Linked DNA regions of Homo sapiens. The protein of the gene in region 2 interacts with the protein of the main gene of each other region in a pairwise test. Each region holds a gene or a part of one and is shown on either strand. Other genes may lie near its edges.

Region 1 (7,855 bases), on a different chromosome or scaffold from region 2:
TTTTTTTTTTACAGAGATGAGGTTTCATTGTGTTGCCCAGGCTGGTTTCAAACTCCTGGCCTTAAGCAATCCTCCCACTTTGGCCTCCCAAAGTGCTGGGATTACAGACATGAGCCACCATGCCAGCCTTTTTATAACCAAATTTTATTCCATTGTGTGGATAGACCAGACTGCATTTTGTTTTTCATTCATCTTCAGTGGACCTTTGGGTTGTTTTTACCTTTTGGCTATTATGAATAATGCTGCTATGAGCATTCATATACAAGTTTTTTGTGTGGACATATTTTCATTTTTCTCTGGTATGTATCTAGGAGGGGAATTACTGAGTCATATGGTCACTTTGTGTTTAATTGTTTGAGGAACCGCCAGACTGTATGCCAAAGTGGCTCACTGTTTTACATTCCCACCAGGAGTGTATGAAGGTTCCAGTTTCACAACATCTTTGCCAACACTTATTATCTGACTTTCTGATTCCAGCCATTCTAGTGAGTGTAAAGTGTTATTTCCTGTGGTTTTGATTTTCATTTCTCCAGTGACTAATGATGTTAATCATCTTTTCATGTGCTTTTGGCCATTTGTATATTTTCTTTGAAGAAATGTCTATTCGAGTCCTTTGCCTATTTTTTAATTAGGTTATTTGTCTTTTCATTATTGAGTTGTGAGAATTCCTTCTATAGTCTGGATAAAAGTCCCTTATCAGCTATATGACTTGAAAATATTTTCTCCCATTCTGATGTTTTTCACTTTTTTGATGGTGTCCTTTAAAGCACAAGTTTTTAATTTTGATAAATTTAGTTTATTTATTTTTTTTCTTTTTTAGCTCACGCTTTTCTTACATATAAGAAGCCATTTCCAAATTCAGATTGTGAAAATTTACTTCTATGTTTTCTTCCAAGAGTTTTATAGTTTTAGTTTATACATTTAGGTATTTGATCCATTTTGAGTTAATGTTTTTTGCATAGGGTGTGAGGTAAGGGTTCAATTTCATTCTATTGCATGTAGATATCCAATTATCCCAGCATCATATGTTGAAAAGACTATTCTTTCCCCCATTGAATGGCATTGGCACCCTTGTTGAAATCAGTTGACCATTAAATACATGGATTTAGTTCTGGACTCTCAATTCTATTCCATTGATCTATGTGTCTGTCGTTATGCCATTATCACACTATTTTGATTACTGTAGCCTTGTAGTAAGTTGTAAAACTAGCAAATATGCAGCCTCCCAATTATTCTTCTTTTTTAGGATTGATTTGGATCGTTACAATTCCATGTGAATTTTAGAATCGGGTTTTCAATTTCTACAAAAATCAGCTGGGATTATAATAGGAATTATGTTGAATCCATAGATCAATTTGGAGAATATTGCTATCCTAATAATATTGTCTTATCCATGAACATGGGAAGTTTTTCCATTTTTTTAGATAATCTGTTATTTCTTTCAATGTTTTGTAGTTTTCAGAGTAAAAGTGTTTTTTGTTTGTTGCTTTGTTTGAAACAGGTTCTTGCTCTGTTACCCAGGCTGGAGTGCAGTGGCAAGATCATAGCTCCCTGCATCCTCAAACTCCTGGGCTCAAGCAATCCTCTTGCCTCAGCCTCCCAAAATGCTGGGACTACAGGCATGAGCCACTGTGCCTGGCCTGAACTTTTTAAATTAAATTTGTGTCTGAGCATTTTATTCTTTTTGATGCTATTTTAAATCAATTTTTTTCTTAATTTTATTTCCAGATTGTTCATTGCAAGTGCATAGGAATCCAATTACTTTTTGCATATTGATTTGTGTCCTCAACTGTGCTGAACTACTTAGTAGTTCTAATATATTTTTCTAATATATTTTTAGTGGATTCCATAGGATATTCTGTAAACATGATCTGCAAATAGAGATATTTTTACTTCTTCCTTTATAATCTGGATGCCATTTATTTCATTGTCTTGCCTTATTGCAAGAAATTAGTTGACTAAATTAGACAAATATTGAATAGAAATGGCAGAGCAGCCATCATTATCTTTTTCCTCATGTTAGGAGGAAAGCATTCCTTCTTTCATCATTAAATATAACATTGGGTGTGAGTGTTTTGTAGAAGCCCTTTATCAAGTTGAAGTTCCCTTCTAGCATTACTTTGTTGAGTGTTTTTATCATAAAAGAGTATTAGATTTTGTCAAATGCTTTTTCCGTATCTACTGAGGTGATGAGTTTTTCTCCCATTATTAGTATGGTGTCTTACATTGTTTTTTGTTTTTTTTGTTTTGTTTTTTTAGACAGGATCTTGGTCTATCATCCAGGCTGGAGTGCAGTGGTATAATTATGGCTCACTGCAGCCTTTATTTCTCAGGCTCAAGCGATCCTCCCACCTCAGCCTCTTGAGTAGCTGGGACCACAAGTGTGCACCACCATGCCTGGCTAATTTTTTTTTTGTTTTTGGTAGAGATAAGGTCTCCCTATGTTGCCCAGGCTGGTCTTGAACTCTTGGGCTCAAGTGATCCTCCTTCCTCGGCCTCTGAAAGTGTGGCGATTACAGGCATGAGCCCCCACACCTGGCCTGGTTTGTTTGTATATGTTGGGCCAACCTTGCATTCCTGGGGTAAATTCCATTTGGCCATAATGTATAACCCATTTTATATGCTGGTATATTCAGTTTGCTAATATTTTGTTGAGGATTTTTTGCATCTGTATTTAAAAGAGATATTGGTCTGTAGTTCTCTTTTTTTCTGATGTCCATCTGGTTCTGGTATCAAGTTAATACTGGCCTCACAGAATAATTTAGGAAATATTCCCTCCTTTTTTATCTTTTGAAAGAGTTTGTGCAGAATTGGTATTAATTATTCCTTAACTATTTGGTAGAATTTAGCAGTGACACTGGGTCTCAGCTTTTCTTGTGGGTAATTTTTTTTATTGTTAATTCGAACTCTAATTTTACCATCTTTTCAGATTGCATCATTTATTCTGGAGTCAATTTTAGTAGTATATATGTCTAGGAATTTGTCCATTTCATCTAAGTCATTGAATTTATTGGCATGCAATTGTTTATTGTATTTCTTACATTCTTTTTATTTCTGTAAGTGCAGTAGTAATGTTTCCTCTTTCGTTTGCATCTTCTCTCTCTCTTTCTCTTTGATCAATCTAGCTGAAGATTTGTCAATCTTGTTGATCTTTTCAAGAACCAGCTTTTGGTTTCATTGATTTTTTTATTGTTTTCCTATTATCTTAATAAATGTTGCTTTAATCTTTATTTTTTTTCTTTCCTCTTCTTGCCTTAGGTTTAGTTTGATCTTCTTTTCCTAGTGTCTTAATGTATAATATAGTTTGGATATCTGTCCCCTCCAAATCTCATGTTAAAATTTGATTCCCAGTGTTGGAGGTGGGGCCTAGTGGGAGGTGTTTGGATCATGGGGGCAGATCCCTTGTGAATGACTTGGTGCTGTTCTAGTGGTAATAAGTGAGTTCTTGCTCTGTTAGTTCCCATGAGAACTGATTATTAAAGAGAGGCTGGCACCTTCCTCCCCTCTCTCTTGCTTCCTTCCTCTTGGCTGTGTGATGCCTGCTCACCTTCACCTTTGCTTCAGAAAGTAGAAGCTCCCTGAAGCCCTCACCAGAAGCAGATACAGGTGCCATGCTTCTTGTACAGCCTACAGAACCATGAGGCAAATAAACCTCTTTTCTTTATTTGTTGCCCAGCCTTGGGTATTCCTTTATTAAAACAACGCAAAACAGACTAAGATGATGTGGAAGGTCATCATCTAATTTGAGACCTTCCTTCTCCTTTAATATTGGCATTTACAGCTATAAATCTCCCTCTGATAACTGTTTTACTTGTATTCCATAATTTTGGTATATTGTGTCTTCATTTTCATACATCTCCAGGTATTTTCTGATTTCTCTTATGATTTTTTTTCTTTGATCCATTCATTATTTAGGAATATGTTGTTTAATCTCTATATATTTCCCTGATTTCCCTCTGCTCTTGATTTCTAATTTGATTCCATTGTGTTCAGAGAACATATTTTGTAGTCCTTCTTACCTTTATTGAAGTTTGTTTTATGGTCTGATATATCGTCTATCCTGGACAATGTTCTGTGTACATCTGAGAAGAATGTACTTTTATACATTGTATATTTGTATATTATACTTTTGCTGGATAGAGTTTTTATAGAGGATTTTTAGGTCTAGTCATTTTATGGTGTTGTTTGAATCTTCTATTTCCTTGTTGACCTTCTACCTGGTTGTTCTATACATTGCTGAAAGTAGGGATATTGAATTCTCCAACTATTATTTTTGAATTGTCTGTTTTTCTCCTTCATTTTTCTCATTTTTCACTTCATGTGTTTTGGCTCTTTTATTAGGTGCATATACGTTTATAATTGTTATATCTTACTTACGGATTCAGCTTTTCATTGTTATAAAATGTCCCTCTTTATTTCTAGTAACTTTTTTTTGTGTTCGATTCTATTTTGTCTGATGCAGTGTAGACACCCTGGCTTTCTTTTGGTTGTTGTTTGCGTGCCATTTCCTTATCTTTGAATATAAAGTCTCTCTCCCATAGACAGCACATACTGTAGTTATTTCTCGTTTTGCTTTGGTTTTTTAATCCAATCTGACCACCTCTGCATCTTGATTAGATTGTTTAATTGTTCACACTTAACACTATTACCCACTGTTATTTTGAGAGAAATTTCTTTTGTGTTTCTAAGTTCTAAGGCCCCTTTCAAAGTTATGGCATTTTTTTCTGCTTCTTTTGAGAACAAATTCCTCTGGGGCTTACCTGATGCAGATACTGAACAAGCAAAGGAGAGAACAAAAGCTCAGGGACAAGCACAAGAGTGGGCTGCATGAGGAGTGAAAGTTGGAAGGACAGACTCAGCCACACATTTTTGGCTGAGATACTATTTAAGTACTTCCGGTTAGGATTCTCTCAAGTTGGTTTTCTCTGCCCCATGTCATCCTCCTCTGTCTTAATAGTTGAGAATCTTGGAGGTGGGGAACTTGCAGTTACTCATCTGTTCTTCAGTTAAAATCTCTGTGATCTATCTTGTGATATTCCTTTCTAGTCACTAAGGGAGAAACCAGGGTCTTTGATTTTACATAGCTTTGAGAGGAGCTACAGCTTTAAATTGGAATGCTTTTCCAAAATTTAATAGCTGCCTGCCCTAAGGGGCAGAACTTCATGAAGGAATGATTTCTAGATTCTCATTGAAGACAACTGAAAATGGATGCACCCTGGATTCAGAGCAAGCACTGGAAGTGGCCCCCAGCCTCAGTTCTTCTCGGATCTGATGTTTAATGGGGAAGAGAAAGGGTGAGATGGAAGCTTTCCCTCGCCACTGAAAGGCCCATCTCATCCAGGGCCTGCAAGGATGCTGATTAATCATGATGAGTGAGTGGGGTGGAAATGCATGGCCCATGGGCCAAGGCGAGAAGCAAAGGTGGAACCAGTCCTGCCAGTGGATTCATTGGCAGAGCTTGGCCGGGAGGGCACTCTTCTGGAGAAAAGAGAAGAGGGAATGACAGGAAAAAAAAAAAAAAAGGCAGGAAGGCTCAGGAGTGAGAAAGCCAGCTGCCACCACACATCCACAGGCACTTCACAGAAGTGCCACTGACCTCATTCTAGAGTCTGAGTCTGACGGGACCCTGGGAATGAATACCTCTCAAGTCCACACTTGGGGCCATTCACAGAGTGGGCTGACACTCCCATCAGTCACACAAGACCAGCACATTGTTAGCCCAGAACTTTCTCCGAAGCAGAAGAGAAAGGCAAATATCTCTTTAAGGTACTTTGCTTCTCCGAGCTGGAGCTTTGTTTAAACTCTCCAGCCGGGAAGTTGCAAGAAGCTCGTTTGCTTTTTAGTAGCTTTAGCCAGAGGTTAAGGCACTGTCCACAGATTGCTCTCAGGAGTAGAGGAGTCCTTAGTGGCTATCTCTGCTCACACCAGAAGCTTCCTTTCTCTCTGTCCTCTTCCCTTCCTGCCTGCCCGGCATCACTTCTGTCTTGCTTGGCCTCTTCCTGGTCAGCCCGCATGTTGGCTGCCTGCGAGCGGCTCTGCTCATCCCATTTGCGTGTTGCAAGGGAGAAGAGGAAGCGTCACTCTCTCCCTTTCTTTTCATGTCTTCTGATGCCCAGTTGCTCTTCCCGGACCAGAAATGGACGGCCCTACCCACTTATTTGCTTTGTTTCTGCCCCCAGGAACTTCTGCACTATTTAATCGGTACCCTGCTCCTCCTCATCGCCTCCATTGTGGCAGCTTCCAAGAGTTACAACCAGAGCGGACTGGTAGCCGGAGCGGTGAGGATGTTTTGGGGAGCCTTTAGGAATGAATTCTTATTTAAAATGCTCATTTTCTTCCTGATGGGGGAAGAGAAGGGCTTGGTTTCTGGGGCATTCCCTTCATAGAATCAATACCTACCTTGATCCAGCCATCAGCTCTCTCCAAAGAGCCTTAAGCAGAGGCGTACAGTCCCAGAAGGTGGATTGTCAGGGCTGCCAGCAAATTCATAGACCCCAGCAGCCCAGGCCTCTCTCTCTTACAGGCACTACTGAAATCAGGGGGCCAGGCGGGTTTTAATTCACACACCCACTCTGATCATTTGCTCGTTGGCTGCCTCAGCACTATGCAGAGACAGATGCTGGAGCCTCTTTTGGGCCCAGTGGGAAATGTACTGTGATCAATTAGAGATACATGCCATGAGCCTGAGCTTTGCCATTCCTGATTTTTAACAGTATTCAGGCCAGGAAATAATACTCCTGTATCTTTCAGAGGCAAAAATTGATCCATCTGATAGCCATAAATAGAAGTAGATGGAAATATACAAAAATACAGTCCTGTGAGATATATACATACATATATATGTATATACATACAGATGTATATGCTATTTTTTTAAAGATTCATAGATTCCTGTCATCTGATTTCTGATTTAGCTAACTATTTATAGTTCAGTGGCCTGTGGGCCAACACTGATTTGCTTCACTGATGAGCAGACAAGATTTTAAAAATGAGTTTTGAGAAAAGCTCTCTCAAGCCAGATGTGGTAGCTAGCATGCACCTGTAGTCCCAGGCACTCGGCAGGAATGCTTGTGCCCAGGAGTTCGGTCTGGCCTGGGCAACGTACTGAGACCCTGTGTCTTAAAAAAAGAAAAAGAGAAAAAGAAAAGCTCTCTCTGTATGTGACATTCATTGTCTTTCACTTACGTATATTACCAAAATTTTCCAGACTTTGGCCTGGGAGTGGGTTGGCTCCTGGAATTCCACTGAGGGATGGAGTCTCTCCTCTGAAGGTCAGCATGGGGGCAGAAGGTCACTGTAGAGGGTGGCCAAACCTCCCAACACTGATGCTCCACATGGCCCTCCCACAGCCCACCATCACACCTCTCTGCCCCCTCTCTCTGCTGTCTCTGAAGAGAGGGATGGTTGCCCCCTGAAGCTTAACACCTGCCCAGCTACAGTGCAGGGTACTGGAAGAGGCACACAGGAGACCTGTGCCCACTGTGTTTCCGGGCCCACTTGAGGAGATTCCCACTGTGTTTAGTAATTCAGGTTGCACATAACTGTTTAGCCCTGGAATCTCTATAGCTAACATTCATCATATGCTGTCTGTGTGCCTAGGACCAAACCTGGGCTATGAGGAAGTTAGAAGAAATTTTTAAAATATGGTCCCTGCTTATAAGAAAGTGGTCATCTAGCTTAGGAGACAAGACACATGAAACAATTAGTAAACAAGGCGTTGTAGTCTAGAATAGCATTCTGTAGCGATATAATAAACTGTTCAATTATGCAGTGCAGACAGTTGGGGACCGGGATGGTATATAACGTGCTAATTGTGCAGAACAGACAATGAGAGGCCGGGACAGGCTCTAATAGG
Region 2 (7,855 bases):
TTTAAGATGTTTATATCATATGAATGATAATATTATAAGGAGCTATATAATTTACTGTTTAAAAAAATGAAACCTGAAAGTTGCCGGTTAGTAGCACATCTTTTTAACTTTTTTATAAATACATTTTAGAGACAGGTCTCCCCGTGTTGTCCAGGCAGGAGTACAATGGCACCTACTTAGCTCACTGCAACCTTGAACTCCTGTACTCAAGTGATCTTCCGCCTCAGCTTCCCAAGTAGTTAGGATTGCAGGGTGCACCACGATACCTAGCTAATTTAAAAAAAAATGTTTTTTGAGACAAGGCTAGTTGCCTACTACGCTGGTCTAGAACTACTGGCGTGAAGCCATCCTCTTGCCTTGACCTCCCAAAGTGTTGGGCTTACAGGCATTAGCCACTGTGCCCAGCCTGCCACATCTTAATTTTTAAATGTTTGTTTGTTTGTTTGTTTGTTTATTTGAGATGGGGTCTCTCTCTCTCTCTTGTCCAGGCTGGAGTGCAGTGGTGCAATCATGGCTCATTGCAGCCTCAACCTCGTGGGCTCAAGCAATCCCCCTGCCTCAGCCTCCCAAGTAGCTGGGACCACAGGTGCACACCACCACACCTGGCTTTATTTATTTATTTATTTTTTTTGTAGAGATGGGGTCTCACCATGTTGCCCAGCCTGGTCTTGAACTCTGGGGGTCAACTGATCCTCCTGCCTCAGCCTCCCAAAGTACTGGGATTACAGTCATGAGCCACTGTGCCTAAGCCTAATTTTAAAATACTTAAAGCATTGAAAAGGAAATAGAAGAATGAGAAATGTTAAAGTGTACATGTATTACTATTTCATCACCTGTTTGATAAAATTGTGTATGTTATTTTAGAAGGTAATTAAGTTTAGTTTCAGACTTATTTGTACAGAGAAGAAAATCTACAGCTATAGGCCCTCTACAAAATGTCACGTTGTGACTCTACAGCTTGTACATGGAAAAATAAATCACATCAGATCATCTTGAGGTGACCACCTGACCAAAGGTAGAATGGAAAAATTAGCATCATGTATAGAAACAGGAATACAATTTTTAATATTATTGGTCCTTTTTGTATATGTGAAATTTACTTTCAAAGTAGCATAACTCATTGGATAAATCAAATATATAATGGCAGTTTTTCCCTTTACATTAGCTTCTAGGGCTGCACATGAAGTTCTGAAAAGCTGCTCATGGTCCGGGGCCTAAAAGTTGACCCTAAACTTGTGAAATTACATAAGGAGCGTATTTATTACTAAAATAAGTTGACTGAAACCGTAAAGGCCTTTATAGAGAAAGTCGTCACCCTTAGTTTAGTAACTGTTAATAGTAAAGCAGATAGAGTGCTTATGACGTAGTATTATGTGATAAAATAGATATAAAAAATGTATTATGTGATAAAATAGACATACATTGTATAGAAAATATAACCTTATGATATAATGAAAAATGCAGTCAAAAGACTGAAAGTCCATGCAAAATGTTTTTTTTATTTTTGTGTAATGAGATTGCTTCCCCTTACAACTGTATACTTTTTCATTCTAGTTTTCTACAATGAAAATGCATTACTTTGAATAGAAAAGAAGCCTCAGAAATGTAAAATAATTAACTTGTTACCAATTTTTGCATTTTGACACTTAGTGAAACCTGCTTTTTGATAGCACTTAAGGTTATCAAGATACGGATAACTCCCCTTGTTACATTGGAGAAAGAGGTCATAATCGGTAAATTTGCATCTATAAATTTAGAAACAAACTTTGCCAAGTTTTCTGGCTAGTTTCTTTTCATTCGTCCTCAGTAATAGACACTAATGCTAGTTTCTTAACCAGTGAACCAGTATCACCTTTGTATTTGGTTGATTGATTTTCTCCCAGCTTGGTTTTATTTATGTTTTAACTCTACTTTTTCCACGCACTACTGTCAGAAGTTATTTAAAGAGAGATGCATTATTTAGGTTTGAGAGTTTTTAGGGCAATAATCATTCCATTATACTCATGGATTTCTGCCCCTTTGGGTGCAAATTATTTTATATTTGCCAAGCGCTTATTCAGGTGTTTCACCTTAACTAAAAGCTTTCTTTCCCCAGATACAGGGCTTCTCCTACAGTCATCTATACTTTTTTCTATCTCTTTGGCTCTTGTAACCCACTAGGCAAAAAGGGGCAGTTGGCATAGGACTTGACCTGTACTGCTACAACTTGACCATTTTTGGTAAGAGTAACTAATACTTATTATCAATCGTGTGCCAGGCACTGTTTAACGCTTTATATGCATCATCTCAAGTAATCTTTACAATAATCTTCTGAAGTAGGTACTTTTATTGATCAAATGTTGTCTAGAGAAGTTAAGTAACTTGTAACTTCAATGGTATACATCTAAGAAGTGAACTTATCAGGATAGGAACCTAGGCCTTCCCAACTCAGAGAAAATTTTAAACATTATCACCATCAATAGATAACTTATTCTCTTTTGACATCAGGTCATCTAATTATACTGGCCTTTCTTTAACTTTGCCACAGAGAAAGATGAAATAAAGAGAGCTGAGTCCTTTGAAAACTTTATCTTCATTCACATTCATGTTGGCCCATCCAACATGGCCTCATTGTTCTTAACTTCTTCAGCTTCAGTAACATCAGCACTCTACTTCAGTTTTTCTAGGATCTTAGTAGTAGGAGTGATTCTCTTGCTGAGATTTCACCAGCAGAACTAGTCTCTGGTTGATTTAACCTCCTCTGTGATTCTTGTTCTAACAAACATACTGTTACATAATGCTCATCACCTGGTCCTTTGACTCCCTCCCTTTTCCTCCAAGTACATAGACATGCTTTCTTGTTTCCTCATTTCATAAGGTCTCTCTCTAGGTTTGTCTGTACCCATTCTCAAACTTATTTATAATTAGGAATTTCACTGATGCCTAATACTGTTTTTTTCAGCCTCTTGTTGTATTTCTGGATAAATCCATTGTTGTGGTCTGTTTGTGCCTTTCCCCAGCTGTCACTTAGCTTGGTGATATGGAGAGTCACAGAAGTTTGCTGATTAGATACAATGCTTTCATTAATCTCTTGTTTATTCCCCATTACATTTTCAGATTTTCCACAGCATTTCCAGAACTTTAACTTAGGGCTGGCAGCTCCTGAACCAGTCATTTGGCAGAAGGATGCCATTACCATGTATTAGTTTAGACAGTTTGAAACTTGACCTCGGATCTACGGGAAAGAATATTGGAGAGTCAACCTGCAATGTGTAATGGTTGCTGTGACACTGTTTACCTTTACACAGTCCACTTTTATCAGCAGCATTACTTTGTAATTGCTTTAGAACTGGCTTTTATTCCCATATGCCCATTTGATGAAACTTACCTAGTTTATTATTCATTCACATAGCATATATTAAATTTCACTGTGCCACTTCATTTATTTCATTTTATTATAAAAGTAGTTACAAAAGTTACATGCTCATGGTAAAAAATGGGAAAGGTTATAAAATTAAAAGTAAAATTTTCTTCAACTCCGACCCAGTAGTCCAACTCTCCAGGTGTAAGTACTGTTTCGTGTGTATCCATACAGAAAATCAGAAAAATTAATGCATATGTATCATTTTTTCTTCTCTTATACTGTATCCTATAGATAATGCTCAGCATTTTTTTTCCACTTAATAACTTATCCTGGAGATTTTTTCCTATAATTTTAGATAAATGTCACCTTTTTTTAAACATTTGCACATTTCATTGTGTTGATTTACTGTGAATTATCAAGTGTCCTACAATGTACATTTAGTTATGAATTAAGTGCCCTATTAATATATAATTAGTTATGAATGAAGTGCCTTATTAATACATAGTTATTTGCAGTTTTTTGGCTGTTACAAGTAGTGCTGTAATAAACTATATCTTTGTGTTGTTCAGAATTTAATACATAGTAGGGATTGCTATGGCCCATAGTTGGGCACCTTGTTTGTAAATAAAATTGTATTGGAACACAGCCATACCCATTTGTTTGTATGTTGTCTATGGCTGCTTTCAAACTAGAGTAGATGAATGAAATGGTTGTAACACCATTTCACAATGGCTCACAAAGCTGAAAATAATTTACTGCCTGACTCTTTAAGACAAAGTTGGCTGGCCCCTCATGTGTAGTATATATTCTTAGAAATGGAATTGCTAGGTCAAAGAGTATGCATGTTTTAAATTTAAATTCTAAATAAAAGTTCAAATTTTTTTTTGCCAAATTACCATCCAAAAGGTCGACCTAATATACAATTTGACAGTATATGAGAGCATATGTTTTCATCAGTTATTTCTTACCAAGAGTAGTTTTTATCAAAGAAAAAACTTATCCAACAGGTGAAAAATGGTATCACATCATTTTGTTTTGCATTTCTCTAATTATGACAAGTTGGGTATATTTTTAGAGGTTTTCTGGGGGGTAATTTACATATTTTCTGTTGTCATTTTGTGATTTTTGCCTACTTTAAAAAATTATTCATGTTTTTCTTCCAGATTGTAAAGTTATTTTACATATAAAACAAAGTAGCTCTATTTTTGTCATGTGTTAGAGTGTTTTTCTTATTTGTATTTTATCTGTTTGTGATATTTTTTCCATATAGATATGCTAATCTTTTTCCCCTTGTTTTATTATGAAAAATATGAAGCAGAAAGTATTGAAAGAATAATATAACTGACATCCATATACTCTTTCCTTAGAAACAAGTTGTTAATATTTTGCCACATTGACTTTTTTTCTTCCACATATATACCTATCCCGCTTGAATCATTTGAAAGTAAATTGCTGACATGACACTTTAACCCTAATGCTTCAGCATGAATCTAAGAATGAGGATATTCTCCTATGTAACCAAACTACCATTATCCTACCTAAGCCAATTAGCAGTGATTCCATGGTATCATCTAATGTACAATTTGCATTCAAAATTTCATTATTTTCTTAAAGGCTAGCTTTTTTTTAAAGTCAGGATCCATTCAGACTTCACACTTTACATTTGATCTATCACTTTAGTACTAATTGAGAACTGTCTTCTCTTGTTTGTTTCTATATATATGATACTGACTTTTTAAAAACAGCTTTATTAGCAATATAGTGATATATGATAAGTTGTACATAAAGTATACAGTTTGATTAGTTTTGATGTATATAAGCCGGTGAAGCTATCATCACAGTCAAGAGAGTGTGGCTGGGTGCGGTGGCTCACGCCTGCGCTCCTAGAACTTTAGGAGGCTGAGGCCCACTGATTGCTTGAGCTCAGGAGTTCGAGACTGGTCTGGCCAACATGATGAAACCTCATCTCTACAAAAAAATGCAAAAATTAGCCAGGACTGGTGGCATGTGCCTGTAGTCCCAGCTACTTGGGAAGCTGAAGTGGGATCATCTGAGCTTGGGAAGTTGAGGCTGTAGCGAGCTGTGATCATGCCACTGCACTCTAGCCTGGGCGACAGAGTGAGACCCTGTCCAAAAAAAAAACACAAAAAAATGGTAAACATATCCATCATCATACCCCTGAGATTGATTCATACCTCTGGAATATACAAATATTTGTATATTTTTCTTGGTTATAGATTTCTAGCTTGATAGTTGTTTTTTCCTTCTGGTATTTAAAAAATGTTGCACCACTGTCTTCTCACTTGCATTGTTTCTGATGAGAAATCTGCCTTTATCCTTATCTTTTTCCCTTTCTACATAGTGTGTCCTTTTTCCTGTGGCTGCTCTTGTGCGTTTGATTGTGATGCATCTTAATATGGTTTTCTTCATGTTTCTTGTATTGGGGTTCATAGAGTTCCTTGGATGCATGGGGTTTGTAGTTTTCATCAACTTTGGAACATTTTTGGCCATTTGTTCTTCACACATATTTTCTGCCCCACTTCTCTCTTCTCATTTGAGGACTCTAGTTACATATGTGTTTGGGTGGTTGAAGCTGTCTCACAGCTTATTGATGCTCTCTTTATTTTTTAAATTATTTTTTTCTTTGTGTTTTGAATAGTTTCTATTGCTGTATCTTCAAGGTTATTAATCTTTCCTTTGGTATCTACTCTTCAGTTAATCTTCTGGTATAATTTTCATCTCACATATTTTAGTAGTAGATTTCATCTCAAGAAATTTAATTTGTATTGATAAAAATATCTTTCATAATTCTACCTTTGGAATATATAGACTACAGTTATAATTTTTAACGTCCTTGTTTTCTAATTCTAACATCTGTTTCAGCTTAGGGTTGGTTTTGACTTTTTGACTTTTGAGTATACACGTTCCCTTGGGCTTCAGAGAGGTTCAACTTTGGCCTTCAGCCTCTTCATACTCATCTGGTGATTTTATTAACTTTTACAAATTTCACCTCTTAACTTTTGAGACAAATGGCTACCAGGTATATCTCTTTTTTCTCATCCTATCACTGAAACCTTGGTCATGGTATTTCTTTTTTTTTTTTGAGACAGAGTCTCACATTGTCGCCCAGGCTGGAGTGCAGTGGTGCGATCTCAGCTCACTGCAAGCTCCGCCTCCCAGGTTCATGCCATTCTCCTGCCTCAGCCTCCCGAGTAGCTGGGACTACAGGCGCCTGCCACTACACCCGGCTAATTTTTTTTGTATTTTTAGTAGAGACGGGGTTTCACCATGTTAGCCACGATGGTCTCGATCTCCTGACCTCGTGATCCGCCCGTCTCGGCCTCCCAAAGTGCTGGCATTACAGGCGTGAGCCACCACGCCCGGCCGGTCATGGTATTTCTAATAGTCTGTTGGACATCTTTTCAGCTCATTGACAGTTCATAGTTACCCTGGGTAAAACTGAGCCAGCTCTCCTTGATTTCTTCACTTAGGTATTGATAACACTATTCTCTTACTGTCATTTTGGACCTCACCCTTATTTTAGCCTATAATCCAATCCATTGTTTTATCCTTTTACTTCTGTCTTTGAAATAGTTTTTATACCTGTCTTTTCCTGTGGCTACCACACTTTATTAATTTTGACTTTGTTATGGACTGAAATTTTATGTCCCCACAAAATTTATATGTTGAATTCCTTTTTTTTTCTTTTTTGAGACGGAGTCTCGCTCTGTCACCCAGGCTGGAGTGCAGTGGTGCGATCTTGGCTCGCTGCATCCTCCACCCCCTATGTTCAAGCAATCCTCCTGCCTCACCCTCCTGAGTAACTGGGATTACAAGCACATGCCACCATGCCTGGATAATTTTTGTATTTTTAGTAAAGACTGGGTTTCACCATGTTGGCCAGGTTGGTCTCAAACTCCTGACCTCAGGTGATCCACCCACTTTGGCCTCCCAAAGTGCTGGGATTACAGGCGTGAGCCGCTGCGCCTGGCCAAAATTCCTAACCCTCAATATAATGATATTAGGAGCTAGGCCCTTTGGGAGGCAATTAGATCATGCGGATAGAGCTCCTGTGAATAGGATTAGTGCTGTTGTACAGAGAGACATGAGAGTGGCTTCTCTTTCTGCTCTCTACCATGTGAGGATACAGTGAGAAAATGGCCATCAGCAAACGAGGAAGTGGACCTACCAGACACTGGATCTGCTGTCACCTTCATGTTGGACTTCCTGGCCTCCAGAACTGTGAGAAATAAGTGTTCGTTATTTAAGCCATTATGGTATATTTGTTATAGTAGCTCAAACTAAGGCATCTAGAGGATTACTGTCACTTTTATATTGGTCTTCTTGCCTCCAGGCTCTTTTCTTCAAGTTCATTCATTGTACACTGCTGCCTCATTTCTGTTCCTAAAGTGTAAGTCTCATCTGTCATTTCTCTTGCCCACTGTTTCAATAACTACCTCTTGCCTACAAAATACAAGTTGTTTAGCATCCTTCTATCCTTCCACATTATGG
Region 3 (6,235 bases), on a different chromosome or scaffold from region 2:
TTGAGCCCAGGGACCCTCACCACTTCAGCAACATGTGAGCCCTCGGCTCCTGGTGCAACAAAAGGGAGCAAAGCAGCCAGGGAAAACGACTCATGTTGGTTTTCCCATCAGTCTTGGAAACTGGTGGCTTGCAGTCAGATTTTGTGGGGTTTAGGAAAGTAAGTGAATGCAGTGGGTTTTTCTGCATCTTGAATGTTGGCGAGCAATTCACTGAGGAAATTCCAATGGTAGTAGCTTTCCTATGGGTGAAAATGGCAGAGGCCCCTGTCCAAAAGGTAATCAATCTAGAGGTCCCACTGGCCTCAGACATTTGCCCTGGTAAGGCTGGCCTGCTGGCTCCCAGGAGTTCAGACCCTTCTGTCCTGGGGCAGGAGACACACAGTGAGGAGACAACATAAGGCCTCCCCAAGGAAGTGCTGTTGACGGTGAGAACTGCTAGGAAAAGAGGAGTTAGGCAGGCTGACGAAGAGCTGGGAAAGGAAAAAAACTGGGCAGAGGGCCCACGCCAGGGCCCGGGACAGGCGCACACCTGGAACAAGGAAGGACAAGCGGCAGCTGTGGCTGTGAAGGCAGGGCCCGAATGCGTGGGTCAGGCACTGGCCAGCTCACAGATGGCCCCAGAAGCCTCGTTACCAAGTCTGAACTTTAACCTCAAGACCCAAAGGGTTCCAAGCAGAGAGCTCATCCCAGCTATCATGCAAGAAATGGATTAGAGAGGTGGCCAGGCTGTAGGGAGAGGGCTAGAGGCTGCCTTAGAAATCCTGGCAGGAGATGGGGCCTGGCCCAGAAGGCTGGCAGTAAGGATGATTCCGAGGATGTTTGGAAGGCAGAACGGGCAGGCTTGGGTGACTGATGAGATCACTCCAGTTACTGGCTTGTGTGACAGAACACATGGGTAGTTAGAGAACACAGGACTCAGGACATGGGTCATAGGTTTGGGTTTTATCATGCAAAGTCTGTGTGAGAGGCCTCACAGGCAGCTGGAAATGCAGGCCCACTTGGGCTAGAGACATGGACTTGGGAAGTGTTGAAATGAGTGTGGTGATCAGGATCCTGGGAGGGGGTGGGAACACCTAGAGGGGAGAATTCAGTGGGCGAAAGAGAGCCTCAGGCAGAATGCCACCACCCAAGGGATGGCCCAGAAAAGAGACACCCAGAAAGAAGACCGAGGAGGAGCAACCAAGGGCAGGAGGAAAGCCGGGGGGGCAGGTTGCCAAGGCCAAGGACAGAGGGAGTCTCTAGAAGCAAGCGGTGGTCAGCAGCATCCTGGGAAATAATGCTGGCTCCACATAAGCAACCAAACGTCCACACCCCTGGCCTTCCGCCACCCCCACCATCGAAAACCACACATGATCTAGAATTTAATATATGTTTATTTGTGTAGTAGGAACATTCAGGTATATAAATAAGGTAAATGCTTTCCAACGTACAGTATATCATGTTCTTACATTGCGTGGAAAAAGAACCTACATGTATTGTTCAACATGGATCACGAGTGCACAGAGAGAGAGATCAGCTGCATTTAGTGAAACGCCAAGTTGGGAAAATGGCACAGCAGTAGCGCACAGGCACACAGCTATCTGGGGAGGCTGTGGGGACTGTCACGTGGACTCTACACACCGAGAACTGCTTCAAGGTCGCCTGTGTCTGAGTGCGGGTAAAGTGAATATCAACACCCAGGCTATCAGGGTGAGACAACTGAATTCCATCATGTCCATCCACTTTACAAAGGGGTGGGAGGCACCATGGAGAAACTGACCAGAAATGCTCTGCCCTGTCACAGAGGAGACAGAGCCAGGGCAGACACGGCTGACCTCTGGGAGGCACAGACACTGGCAGTGATGGGTCCCATGGGATGCCTGGCACTCCCAGCACAGACAGCTCCCCAAAGCAGGTGGGGAGGCCCTTTCTGTGTTTGGGAACTTTTTAGTTAAACAAATCCTCAGAATCGAATTAAGAAGGATGTCCACAGCTCGATCAAAAAAAAAAAACCAAAAAAAAAAAAAAAACCACCAAGGTTCCCAAGATCCTTCAACAGAGGGGCTTCCCATCTGATCTTACCCTCCTGTTTCAGAAGGTATTAAACATCAATAAAAATTAAAATATATTATCAGTATCAACTCTAGAAGATAACCCATGGCTTCAAATCTCCCTGGACGGGTTCTCTGAGCCCAGATTTCTGGTCCCCAACTCGTATGACATCCAGGGCCAGCGAGCGTTCAGCTGGCATCTGTTAGAGTCTGCCCTCCACTGTGAGACTCCTGGCCCCTCCGTGGCCCTGGTATTCCTCCTGCTGCTGCCCCTAGGAGTCCTCCAGCTGGATAACAATAAACCAAACCGCTGTCTCCTAATCCCTGACTTGTTCTCCTGACTCCTAGTCCTTTGGTTTCATCGGCCCCTGATGTCTGTTCAACTCTTCCCCTTTGTAATCAGCCCCTAGCACCCAGTCAGCATGACGTAAGACAGAAAAACAGTTTACTAAAGGCCAGAGCCCTGTGCACAGAGGATTTAAAAGAAACAGCACCCAAAGGACACTCATGAAAACATGTATGCACATTCTGCCTGCTAGAAAACATTCTCAACCTCTTTTCTACTCTGCTGTTCCTTTAAGAAAAGCCAGCATACAAGAACCTAGCGCAGGTGTCAAAAAAAGGCATCCAAACTGCGAGGACAGAGGTGGCTATGTGGATGATTATCGGCAAACACAGTTTCACTAGAGACAAAATCACCAGGTGGCTAACCCTTCTGAGTGCTTTATGCAGGCAAGGTCCTCTGGGGGCTGCAAAAGGCTAGGCCCTGCCCAATGCCCGGGAGACCACTGCAAAGGCATTCTCTGCTTGATTTCCAGAGGGCCCTTACCACAACCCCCTCCCCGGCCCAGCAGTGGAGGCTTTCTATGGATACAAGGCTGCCTAGGTCTATTCAACAACACAATGAGGGAGGAAGCACCAGGCAAGGCAAACACAAACCCAGAAGGACAGGAGGGCTCGGGGGCAAGCCTGGGATTGGCCTGTCACAGCAGCTGCTTCCTAGAAACCCCCACAACCATCTTCTCCTGGTTCATGGCATTATCATTACTTCAGCAATTCAATGAAACAGAGGGACCATTATTTCCATACTATTAATAGCAATGTGCTGTTGGGTCCCACTAATACCCAGGAAATAATCCACAGTCAAACCAGTAGTTCAGTTATTATTCAACTGACCTAGGAATTTCATGGATCCTGTTAGCCAACACCATTCCTTCAAAGTGAGGCAGCCTCCCCTTACACACACGTGCCCCAACTCCCCACCCCCATTCAGAAAACTAAGTTCAAGAAACTCTTTTCATTAAGTCCTGTGCCTGTTCTCCCTTCATTCATGAGTCACCCATTTGAGTCTTTGCTAACCTAGAATCCGGCAGAAATACCTCACATCATGTGTCCTCAATGGGTCACCCACTTCTACCCGGTTACTACTTTTAGAAGGAAACATGAAGCTCCAGATTGGCTGCGTCATAAGGATGTGGGCAGAACTTCTAGGCTTTTAGTCTACATAATCCCCTACAAAGCAGGTTTCTGTTGTCCCCATTCTTCTCTTCTTGGCCCCTGAGGACATCCACCCATACAGGGAACTGCTGCAGGCTCCTGAGCTATGTGCACAGAAGACAGCCCTTGGCCAGAGCGGGAAGTGGGGTCCAGAGCGAGTCACAGACAGGCCCTCCCTGCCCAGAGTGGAGGTACCACCAGACAGGAGGAGATGGCCTTCCCACAAGCAGTCCAGACTGTGGGCAGAGGAGGTGAGCTGGATTCTCAGGCCAGCCATTCTCACTAAGAACAGAACTTCTGCACACCCCCATGTCCTCTTGCCTCGTTAGGGTGGCCTCCTAAATGGTGTGTGAAGCACCAAGATGCTGTAGGGGATGTTAAGGTTGGCGTGCTTCTCTCGGAGGGACCCAGACTGTGTGCAGGGTGGTGGCAGTGTGGTGGCTGACAATCCCATCTCTGGCATTGCACCAACGGAGGTCAAACTACCAGCTGAGCTCAACAAAAGTAACTACCATTTATTGAGTGCTTACTATGTGCCAGGCATGGTACTAAATGCTTACATGCATTACCTCGTTATATCCTCACAACCACCCCAGGAAGAAGGTACTATTATCAGACCCAACTGCCTTCAAGGTAGAAGCTTAGAGCAGCCTAGAAACCTGCCCGCACCTAGGGTGATTTGATCCCAAAGTCTGTCTTAACCACTGCTCTCGGCCTCAGTCATACTGCCTCAGTTTCCTCATCTATAAAATGGAGACAACAATACCTAATCAAAGGCTGTTTTCTGGATTAAAAGGGATAACGTATGTAAACCCTTAGCACTATGCCTGGCACATATTAAGCACTATACTATTGCAATCCTTATTAATAAACACACTGATATCTCATTGGCTCAAGAATAAAAAGAGAAGGCGCCTCAGTAGGTAGGCATTTGATGGGAAAAGGAAGGGGAGGGTGGGGGAGGAGACAGGGTCTTTAAACAGCCAACAAATTTGAAACCCACTGGACAAAAAACCCTAGACTTCACAAACTCTGCCCCTCTATTCTCATAAATCATCCGCATGTCCTCAAAATCCCAACACTTCAGCATCCAAAGGATACCTCCTAAACTGCACTCAAAGTGCGTTGGGAAACATGGTCCCTATACAAACAGGTGACAGCCTTAATCAAGAGACAGCCCCAGATGAGAACAGCCTCCATCCACCTGAGAGGCCAGGTAAGGCCACTGCTGGTCAACCTGAAAGGGAAGGGCGCATTCAGATGGCAACAGCAGCCAGGACTCTTCTGAGAATAGGGCCCACCTTCTGCAGGGATGTGGATAAGGAGAGTCCAGGCCCAAGAGAAGGTGGGCCAGGCAGAGCCCTGAGATAAGAATCCTTCGTGACCACTTGGTTTAAACCCTAGCACCCCATGCAGGTTGTGGCACAAGGCCCCCACCCAACAAGAGAAACTGAGTCAGGAAGTGAGAGCTGTTCATCTCTTTAAAAACTGGAAGCTGGGCAGCTGCGTGCAGGGTGATCAAGGGAAAAGGAAGTTTGTTTTGACCAAGTCAGGGAAGAATACGGGGCTCTGCCTGAGTATTAGCCATCATCTTCAGGCCAGAGTTTGTTCCACCTGCTCTTTGGAGTCCAGTGTTCCAAAGCACAAGTGAGAGTCCATCCGCGGCTTACTGTCTTGCAATGTGTCCATAAAAGTCACCTGGACATCCTCCCCACCCTGACCTCAGAAGAACAGAAACCTGTTCAAGTGAAATTGTCCTCCCAACTCCACCCTTTTCTTAGCACATAATCACAGTGTGCAAGAAAGGTGGGCCCAGATATGTTACTCTGGAAGACAAAAGACAATAGTGCCTAAGATATTACTAAAACAGGAAAAGGCTTCAGCAGTGACATACCACATTTAGTAGGGTGATGAAAATCTACCCCCTTGGACATGCAACTAGGACTGGCTTTGTAACTAACAAGACCCCTGCTTCACAGTTTTCTGAGCAAGGACACTCTGTCTCAAGTCACTTATACTCTCCCACTACCCGACTCTGTCAATAGTGGAGATGAACCTGAGCTTTGGGAAACATGGTCCCCATACAAACAGGTGACAAGGGCTGAGCCAAGGGCTCACTGACAGTGTGAAGATCTCAACTCAAAGATCCATTCAAATAAGGCTCCAGTCAACTCAGCAACTAGCTCAGACCAAATCACAAGGTCTGTGTAGTCTCCCTTAAAACATATTTTTGGGATTTTCTTGCATAATATAGGTCAAGTTACAGTGGAAAAAAATTCTATAAAAATGGATTCAAAGTCCACCTGTGTAAAGTCAAAAGTTGTATCCTCCCCAATGAAAGAGATTAGTTTCAAAGGATGTGAAACTAGTTCTCATACATTATAGGGCTGTACAATACTAAGAGTAATTACATTTTAAATGCAAAATACTGTAGCTACTAAAATGCCCAGAATATGAAACAAGTTGCCTAAGAGGGTTTCACTTTCAGGAGTAAAACATAAATGGAACCTTTCTGAATACTAAAAGCAGTTAAGAGGGCAGCATGCGCACACACAAAAGGCAAAGACTCGGTACCCTGTGAGCGGTCATGAGCAGAGCTCCCAGGGGCTGGGGGGTGCCCATCAGCCCTGGTTTCTATGACCCCCTTGTTCCACCAGGCAGGAGCCAACAGCAATTTAAGCTCCAACCTGGCTCAGGCCAGGCCTCCT
Region 4 (7,743 bases), on a different chromosome or scaffold from region 2:
GCTTCTCTGTCCTTTTGCCATATTCCCATCATTCTTTGAGCACTTTTTCACTTTGGCACCAGAAATTCTAGGCCCATCATCTACTTTTCCTTTATCATATGTGGAATTAGTCATTTCTCCAAAGAGCACTGTCTCCTTTTAGTGGGGAATGGTATCTAAAAACCAAAACCTGGCCACTGGATGGGCTCATTGCTAGTGTGGTATCACTGCTTCTAGACTGTCCACAGTAAGGGTGTTTATGTATGTGTATAGGTACAGAAACGCTTGTGTATCTACACCTATCTGTGTATTCATGCTGAGATCTGCAATTCCAGTACAAATGCCATAGGATTCATTCTAATCTCTCCTTTTCATATTTGCAATTCCCTTAAGCAGGGAGAAACCTCACACTCCCTTACCTTCAGTGTTTTTGCTTTTGCTCATTAACACAAACTTTATTGGCTTTATCCCTGTTGTCTTACTGGCCCCACCTATATAAGTTCTCTGTGCCCAGGTCTTTGTCTTAAGGTCTGCCTTAGGGAAACCCAAACGCAGATAGCTCCCAGCAGTTTCCATTGTTAAATTCGTTTCGTAGGATATATTCACTTTGGCCAAGGACTACACCCTTCTTTTGGTAGCTGTGTAGCTGTGTATTGCTTGGCATGTTTTGTGGACCTGCACTCAATAACTACTTGCTGAATAACTGATAGGTTTTGAGAAAATTTTTAGTATTTACCAAGAATCTAAGTTTTTAGTAAGTTAAATTAGAGGAAATTCTATGGTATTTTTCACCACAGCTTATGAGATTAATTTTCTGTTTGCACGCCTATTAGGTTCAAGTTTGGGACACACATGCACAAAGGTCTGAACACCCTTTGAAAAAAAAAGTGAGTTTTGTTTTTGTTTTGATGTGGAGTCTTGTTCTGCCACCCAGGCTGGAGTGCAGTGGTGCGATCTCAGCTCACTGCAACCTCTGCCTCCCAGGTTCAAACAATTCTCCTGCCTCAGCCTCCTGAGTAACTGGGATTATAGGCACCCACCCCTATGCCTGGATAATTTTTATATTTTTAGTAGAGACTATTATAAAGACATTATAAAAATGTTTGTATGTTTAGTAGAGACAGGGTTTCACCATGTCTCTCACATTCAGTAGAGATGGGGTTTCATCATGTTGACCAGGCTGGTCTCGAACTCGTTACCTCAAGTGATCCTCCCATCTCGGCCTCCCAAAGTGTTGGGATTACAGGCGTGAGCCACAGTGCCCAGCCAAGCCTGAACACCCTTTGGAAAATTTAACCTAGGTACTAAAACTTGTGAAAATGAGCCATAAATTGGGTTTATTTCTAAAAAATAGCTTCACACTTCCTTGGTGTTTTTGTTGGGGAATCACCTGTCTGTCGAATGACTAGTACTACTGTGCACTTCCATAATCCTCAGTATTTCCTTATTTGCTAAATCCTAGGATATACCAAAGTGGTTACAGAATTGCTAACCCATACCAAGAGAGACAAGCTTTCTAAACTAGAGTTCTATATGTGTTAGCTCTAACTAGAGACAAGTTTTCCAAGTAGAGTTCTATACTTGCTTAAAGACACTCCAACATTATAAAAATACATATGTATAGTATTATTCATTGCAGCTATCTGTAATTTTAGACTTTTTGTCTGGTCTAAGTATTTTTTTCTACCTTTAGCATGGTTATAATAATCATTTGAAATACAATTCATTGTCTTGAAATTCTTAATTTTATCTTTGAAATTTGAGTTTTATAAGTAAAGTCTGATGGAATAGTGGAGCACGCAGCAGCAGCTTGCAGCCTTGGCTCACGCCTGCCTCGTCCTGCCTCCCCAGGGTGGGTTCTCAGCCCACTGCTGCCCCTGGGCAGCCTGCCTCCCTCCCTATCATCCATATGTCACTTGACTTCCATACACTTTCACTTTGGTAAACACAGTGACATTTTGAATATCCAAAGATGAGTGTCAGCAAAAAGCCAAAGTCTAGTGATCCCTGAAATACAAATGCATCTCCTTTCCGCCAGTGCCCAGCTATTCTGGTCCACGACTGCCTAAACCTTTGAGGAAGATTTGGAAGAAGATTCATTGTCTGTACTTGTGGCCATCTTGCAGGGTCCTTCCTTAAAGATAAATTGCCTCCCTCTCTATCAAGAGATTTTGGTTCTGGGAACCAAGTGAGAACCTTGATGCTCCATTATAGTAAATACAGATTTCTGCTCACCTGTTCATTTTTGTATATCAAGTAATACATTAGTAGACTGGCTGGCTGTTTTATTCCTAGGGATCAAAACATTCTGATGGGTCATTTCATCTTTTTTTTTTTTTTTTTTGAGATGCATCCTCCACCTCCCAAGCTCAAGCAATTCTTGTGCCTCAGCCTTCCAAGTAGCTGGGACTACAGGTGTGCACCACCATGCCTGGCTAATTTTCATATTTTTATTGGAGATGGGTTTTCGCCATGTTGGTCAGGCTGGTCTTGAACTCCTGACCTCAAGTGATCCGCCTGCCCCAGCCTCCCAAAGTGCTGGGATTACAGGCGGGAGCCACCGCACCTGGCCAGGTCATTTCATCTTCACCATCCATGGCAGGGTTGGCGTCCACCCGGCCTCTGCTGCCGCTTGGCCTCTGCTACTTTAGAATCACATTATTTCCTCTGAAATCAGTGATCCCATCATCAACTCTGGCCTACAAAAAACAGCCACAACCTATCTTTTTAAAGTTGCCGGTCTTCACTAATGCATCTCGCAGTGTCTTGGTGAATAGTGTGTACTATGGGACCTACTGAGAACTTAGTGTGGTCGCCAAAGATAAATCCACCCCAACATTCCTTTCTTACTAAGCCATTGGTATCCCCTTCTTCATTAAGTTAGGCTTCTCAATCTCATAGCATCCAGGCTTTTACTGAGCCTAGGTTTTGGTCAGCCAGCCAAACAGAGCTGCTCCTAGATGCTTAGGTTGAAACATTAAATTCAGACTTCACTAAGCACACCCCTGTCTAGAATGTGGCCGGATCTAATGTCATACTCACATCTTGCCTATTTAGTCTGACACCTTAGAATTCATTCCCACACCATGTTTCTATTAATATAAATTAGCAAAATTCGTATCTTACTAACTTGATACTAATTTATTGCTAGCATAAATTAACAGTAGTTTTTAGTTTGTGCTTATTTCCTCCTAAGTCAGACTTTGTGCTTGCTCTCCCTAGGAATGCTGATACCTGATTCTAGTTATGGATATGGAGGCAAGGAGAAGTTGTTAGGGTAGGTACAAGGTAATTTCATATAAATACGCATGCTAAAAAGAAATTTGAAGTGATGGGGGGATTGAGGGGCTGACTTATCAAGCTGAGGCTTGAATGGAAGGGGTGGCCACATAATCACCACAGGACTGCCTTCTGGGAGGAGAGGGGAACATGCAAAGGCCTGAGGCAGGATCTGGGGGTTTGTTGGGGGAGCCTAGTCACGGCCAGTGGACTGAAACATAGAGCTCGTGGGTGGGAAGCTGAGCAGGGCCGAGGCAAGCCCTTAGCGCGGTGGGAAACCATCAAGGTGTGAAGTAGGGGGCGCTGACAGAACTCTGAGGGCTCAGACGTGGGAAGTGAGGGAAAGAGACACCTTTGATGACTTCATTGTGTGGCTAGAACATCTGGGAGCGGGGAACTGGGATTCCACTGACTGAGTGAGGGAAGGGGCAGTAGAGTCAAGGTTTGCTTTGGACACTGTAAGTTGTAGCCGCTCGTGAGATACCCTGCGGGGCTGTTGAGAAGCAGTGGGCAGTGGGGCTAAGTTCTGAGCCAGGCCCAGCCTGGAAATGGATGTCATAAGTGCACAGGGGTCTAGGGAGGCAGAGAGCGAAAGAGGAAACAGGAGCGTTTTAGGAAAGACTAGAGCTGCCTGAGGGTTTGGATCAAAACTGCTTTAAAAGTCCTTCTTCAACAAGCACTGAGCACCTACTCCGGGCCAGGCATGGAGAACCCAGAGGTGAGCAGAGTCCGTCCTGCACTCAGTGCTGCCTGCTTCAGGCCAAATTTCCCCAAGCCCAGGCCACAGGCACTAACATGCAGATTCCCTGGGCTACCCAAGCCCCACTGAAACACAGTGGCCAGAGGCAGCAGCATGTTTCAAGTTCCCTGGGTGATTCTTTTGCACAAGAAAGCTTGAAAACCTTTCATTTTCAGTGGTCCAGGAGTAAATGTGGGAGGTGTGTGTGTGTTGCGGGGTGGAGAAAGAGAGAGAGCACAGGCAATTTCCTCTTTCCCTCTCCAAGAGCGGGGCTGCTCCCAGGTTCAGGAAAGCAGGTCTGTTCTGTGAGCTCTTGTGTGTGTGTGTTGGTGGGGGGAGCGGGGGGGTGGGGAGGTGCGGGCACGATGTCCCAGGAGGACAGAGTTTGCATTGATGAAAACCCTTCCCAGCCCTTTGATGCCTCTTTCTCACTGCCCTGAAGTTAACCAGCGCAGTCCTCCGTGCGTCCCGCCCGCCGCTGCCCTCACTCCCGGCCAGGATGGCATCCTGTCTGGCCCTGCGCATGGCGCTGCTGCTGGTCTCCGGGGTTCTGGCCCCTGCGGTGCTCACAGGTAAGAGGTGAAGGCCCTTGTCTCAGCCACCACTAGCCTCCCAGGGCCGATAACTACCTTGGGGCCAGATTCTTCAACGTTCACTGGGGAGGAAGCCCTCTCACAGGAGATGGGATGACTATTTGGGGTGATTCTGCGAAGAGCTCTTGTGAGGCCGGCTGGCAGCAGCTGTGTGGGATGGACGTCTCAGGAAATTGTTAGCAGGAGGGATAATGGCCTCTGGAGAAGGAGGACAACTTGGGGGGCAGGCCCAGGGATGTTTTGCTGTTGAGGGGGACATGGGTATTGCTCTAGCACTTTAAAATCTGAAGTCTCCCAGGTCTGGGAGGCAGCTGGGGCACCAGGCACAGGACAAGCAGCTGAGGGGCCAGAGGAGTGCAGAGCCTTGCTGATTACTTTGAAAAGCTTCCCTGCTGGTTTCTGCGACGTCCTTAGAGAATGAGGACCCAGGTACTGTCCCCATCTGGGAAAAGGCTCCAGAGAGGGAGAGAATACAAGGCCCAAGATCCCTCTGCAAAACGGTGTGGACCTCTGGACTGAGATCAGAGTGGCGGAGTCTGGGGTCCCACGAGAGGGAGGCCTCTGGCAGGCTCCCAAGGGCCCTGTGGAGAGGGGAAGACTGGCCCAGGCTGGCTTCAGAGCCTGAGAGACAAAGGGCGCAGACGGGTTACAGGTGGTCTTTGCTCCTTTTGGCCGGGAGTTGGACCAAAGGGCAGCTGGCTTCTGTGTCACAGTAGCGGGGTTCAGGGACCCTGCAGCCTGGGTCTTCTGGAGGGCGCCCGTGGATCTGTGAGAAAGGTGGACCGCAGTCATGAGAGCATGGCCTGGGGAGAGCTTCTGGGGGACGACAGGCCTGGGGAGGCCCCCTCGGCCACACCCTGGGAGGTCTGGGTGACAGCGAGGAGCACCGGAGACTATTGGCTTCTCCCTGGACGCCCAGGAAGAAGCTTGAGGCCAGGGTGTGCTCAGTCTTGACCGGGCGGTTTCTTAACCTCTCTGTGCCTTCTCGTCATCTGTAGGATGGTGACACAGCCACGCTCTGCCTCACTTGCAGGGGTCTGTGAGGCCTCGTGAGTTCAGACGTGCGGAGCTTTTGGGATGGGCCCCACATCCAGTTAGCGCGAATGTGGATTCTGTGGTCCGAGCCCCTCCCTGGCACAGGGTGGTCTCAACAGAACTCTACTTCCTCCCGCAAGCTGGGAGGGCGCCAGCCTCCCTTGTGGTGGAAGAGGCGCCAGCCTAGGCGAGCCATGCGGTGTTCCCAGGATGGGGGGAAGGGACTTAAAGGGGAAGGTGGCATCTTCCATGGCTTGGATCCTGGGGCTGTGATCTTTGCAGCCCCCTCACTGGGAAGAAGCTGCTTCTCCAGCCTGGTGGTCCGTGTGGGCCGAAGGGGAGGCCCTGGCTCCTGCCTGCTGGGCCTGGGCTGCCTGTGGCTCCTGCCCAGGTTCCTACTCCTGTGTGGCTGACCCTCCTGGCCCAGGCTGCCGGCCAGAGTTCCCAGGCCAGACTGTCCCTAATCATTGTAGGCGGGTGGGCTTCCTCTGCCACCACAGGATGCCTTGGGGACAGCCAGGACCTCACCTGGCCTCACTGCCCCACTTCCCTCCATGTGTCCTACCAAGAGTAGGCAGGCCCCCCGCAGGGGCCAGACCAGGCCTTCCCAACCCCGGAGTCTCTGGGGTTCTGGCTGTTGTTCTTGCGAGAGCGTTTGACCCCACCCCTGGGCTGGGAGCTCTGGACAGGTGTGTACACGGCCCTGGGCTCTGTGGGCTGGGGTCCTGTAGCAGACAGGAAGGGAAGGAGCGGCCTTGTGGGCTGAGGCCCAGGCCCCATCTGAGGCACAGGCCCTCCCTGTTGGGGGCCTGTGGCCTCAGCTACTGAGGTGGGAGCAGGCCGGGCTGAGCGGGCAGGAGGCCAGGGCAGGGATGAAAAGGCCCTTCATGGCCCACACAAAGGCTGTCTGTGAGCAGAGGCGCCTGGCCTCAGGGCCCTGTGGTCAGAACACACTTATTTACCAAAAGGCAGGGCGGCTGGGGCCAGTGGGGCTGGGAGAGAGCCCGTGGTGCCCAGGCTTGTGGCAGTGCCACCAGCCCCTGCTTCCCTGGGTCAGAGCGCGTAGCCACACCACATGGCTAATTCTGGTCAGTGGAGTCTGGGCCTCATTACCGCCATGGAACTTTCTTGGGGTCCTCCGTGCCCCCACCTCTTTGCCAACCTCACTTTCTGTCACCCTGGCCTATTCACTGTCCGCCTGGCACGCCGTGAGTTCCGTCCTCCACACCTTCGCTCCTGCCCCATCTCCCCCCTCCCCAGACAGGACTCCTGCTGGGAAACTGCTCTGCTCCCAGCTTCCCAGAAGGATGGATTTGGGGGAAGATGGGAATTGCCTCTCAGCTTTGCTTTCCCTTCTTACTGGAGTAAATTCTAGAAACATAGATGAGGATAAGAAGTGCCTCGGCCCCTCCCTGGCAGCGGCACCCCTTTTCCTGGTGGATCGGTGGCTGAGTGCAGGCTGTCATTCCGAGCCTATGTGTCTGCCACTTGGGCACCAGCCTAGGTTGGCAGGGAGCTGGTGGCTCCTGGGGCCCTGGCCGCTTGGGTGCAGATGGGTACTGGGCCAGCCTGTGAGGGATTCCTGTGGCAGCCAGCGGCTGCAGACCCATAGCAACTGGGCTTGTGTCCAAAGGCGCACCCCAGGCCAGACGCAGCAGCTGAAGATGCTGGTGTTCACACAGTTACCTCCTTGTGCAAGATGCTTGACAGCATAGTCTGAACCCCCGTCTTACAGGTCAGGAAGGTGGATTGGGGCATGGAGCAAGGATAGGCCCCAGCCCTCCTGATTAGAAAGCTTCATGGCCTGGCTGGACAGGAGGGGGCTGTGTACAGTGGGAGGAGGCCAGGGCAGGTATGTCTGGTGGTGGGCGCAGCAGAGACAGGCTGGGTCACGGGGGACAGATGGGGACAGGGCCTGAGTGGGGCTCCCCACTGCCCTGCTCAGAGGGTACCGTCAAGGGTGGCAGCTCACCCCTGCTGGGCTGGCCTGGGTACTGAGCCCTGCCTTCTCAGGGGCTGGAGGCCTGCCACTCCTCGGCTGATTCCCGCAGATGCCACCCGGCTCAGCTGGGCCTGGTACCCAGAAGCCCTGCCGCGGCCTCCAGATGCAGGGAGGTG

What was found.
Region 1: the proteins of HIBADH (region 2) and CMTM7 interact in binary tests that used the Homo sapiens proteins (3 or more experiments, as listed by UniProt).
Region 3: the proteins of HIBADH (region 2) and CDS2 interact in binary tests that used the Homo sapiens proteins (3 or more experiments, as listed by UniProt).
Region 4: the proteins of HIBADH (region 2) and SNORC interact in binary tests that used the Homo sapiens proteins (3 or more experiments, as listed by UniProt).

The regions. Positions count from the first base shown.
Region 1 is NC_000003.12:32,443,275-32,451,129, forward strand, and holds part of CMTM7 (CKLF-like MARVEL transmembrane domain-containing protein 7), read left to right. Parts: intron 1-6,179; coding exon 6,180-6,278; intron 6,279-7,855.
Region 2 is NC_000007.14:27,652,328-27,660,182, reverse strand, and holds part of HIBADH (3-hydroxyisobutyrate dehydrogenase, mitochondrial isoform 1 precursor), read left to right. Parts: intron 1-3,416; exon of another isoform or gene 3,417-3,551; intron 3,552-7,532; exon of another isoform or gene 7,533-7,583; intron 7,584-7,855.
Region 3 is NC_000020.11:5,193,008-5,199,242, reverse strand, and holds the end of CDS2 (phosphatidate cytidylyltransferase 2), read right to left. Parts: 3' UTR 1,356-6,235; downstream 1-1,355. UniProt on the Homo sapiens protein: Catalyzes the conversion of phosphatidic acid (PA) to CDP-diacylglycerol (CDP-DAG), an essential intermediate in the synthesis of phosphatidylglycerol, cardiolipin and phosphatidylinositol.
Region 4 is NC_000002.12:232,865,846-232,873,588, forward strand, and holds the start of SNORC (protein SNORC isoform c precursor), read left to right. Parts: upstream 1-4,418; 5' UTR 4,419-4,496; coding exon 4,497-4,569; intron 4,570-7,743. UniProt on the Homo sapiens protein: Plays a role in the regulation of chondrocyte maturation and postnatal endochondral ossification. May inhibit cell growth stimulation induced by FGF2.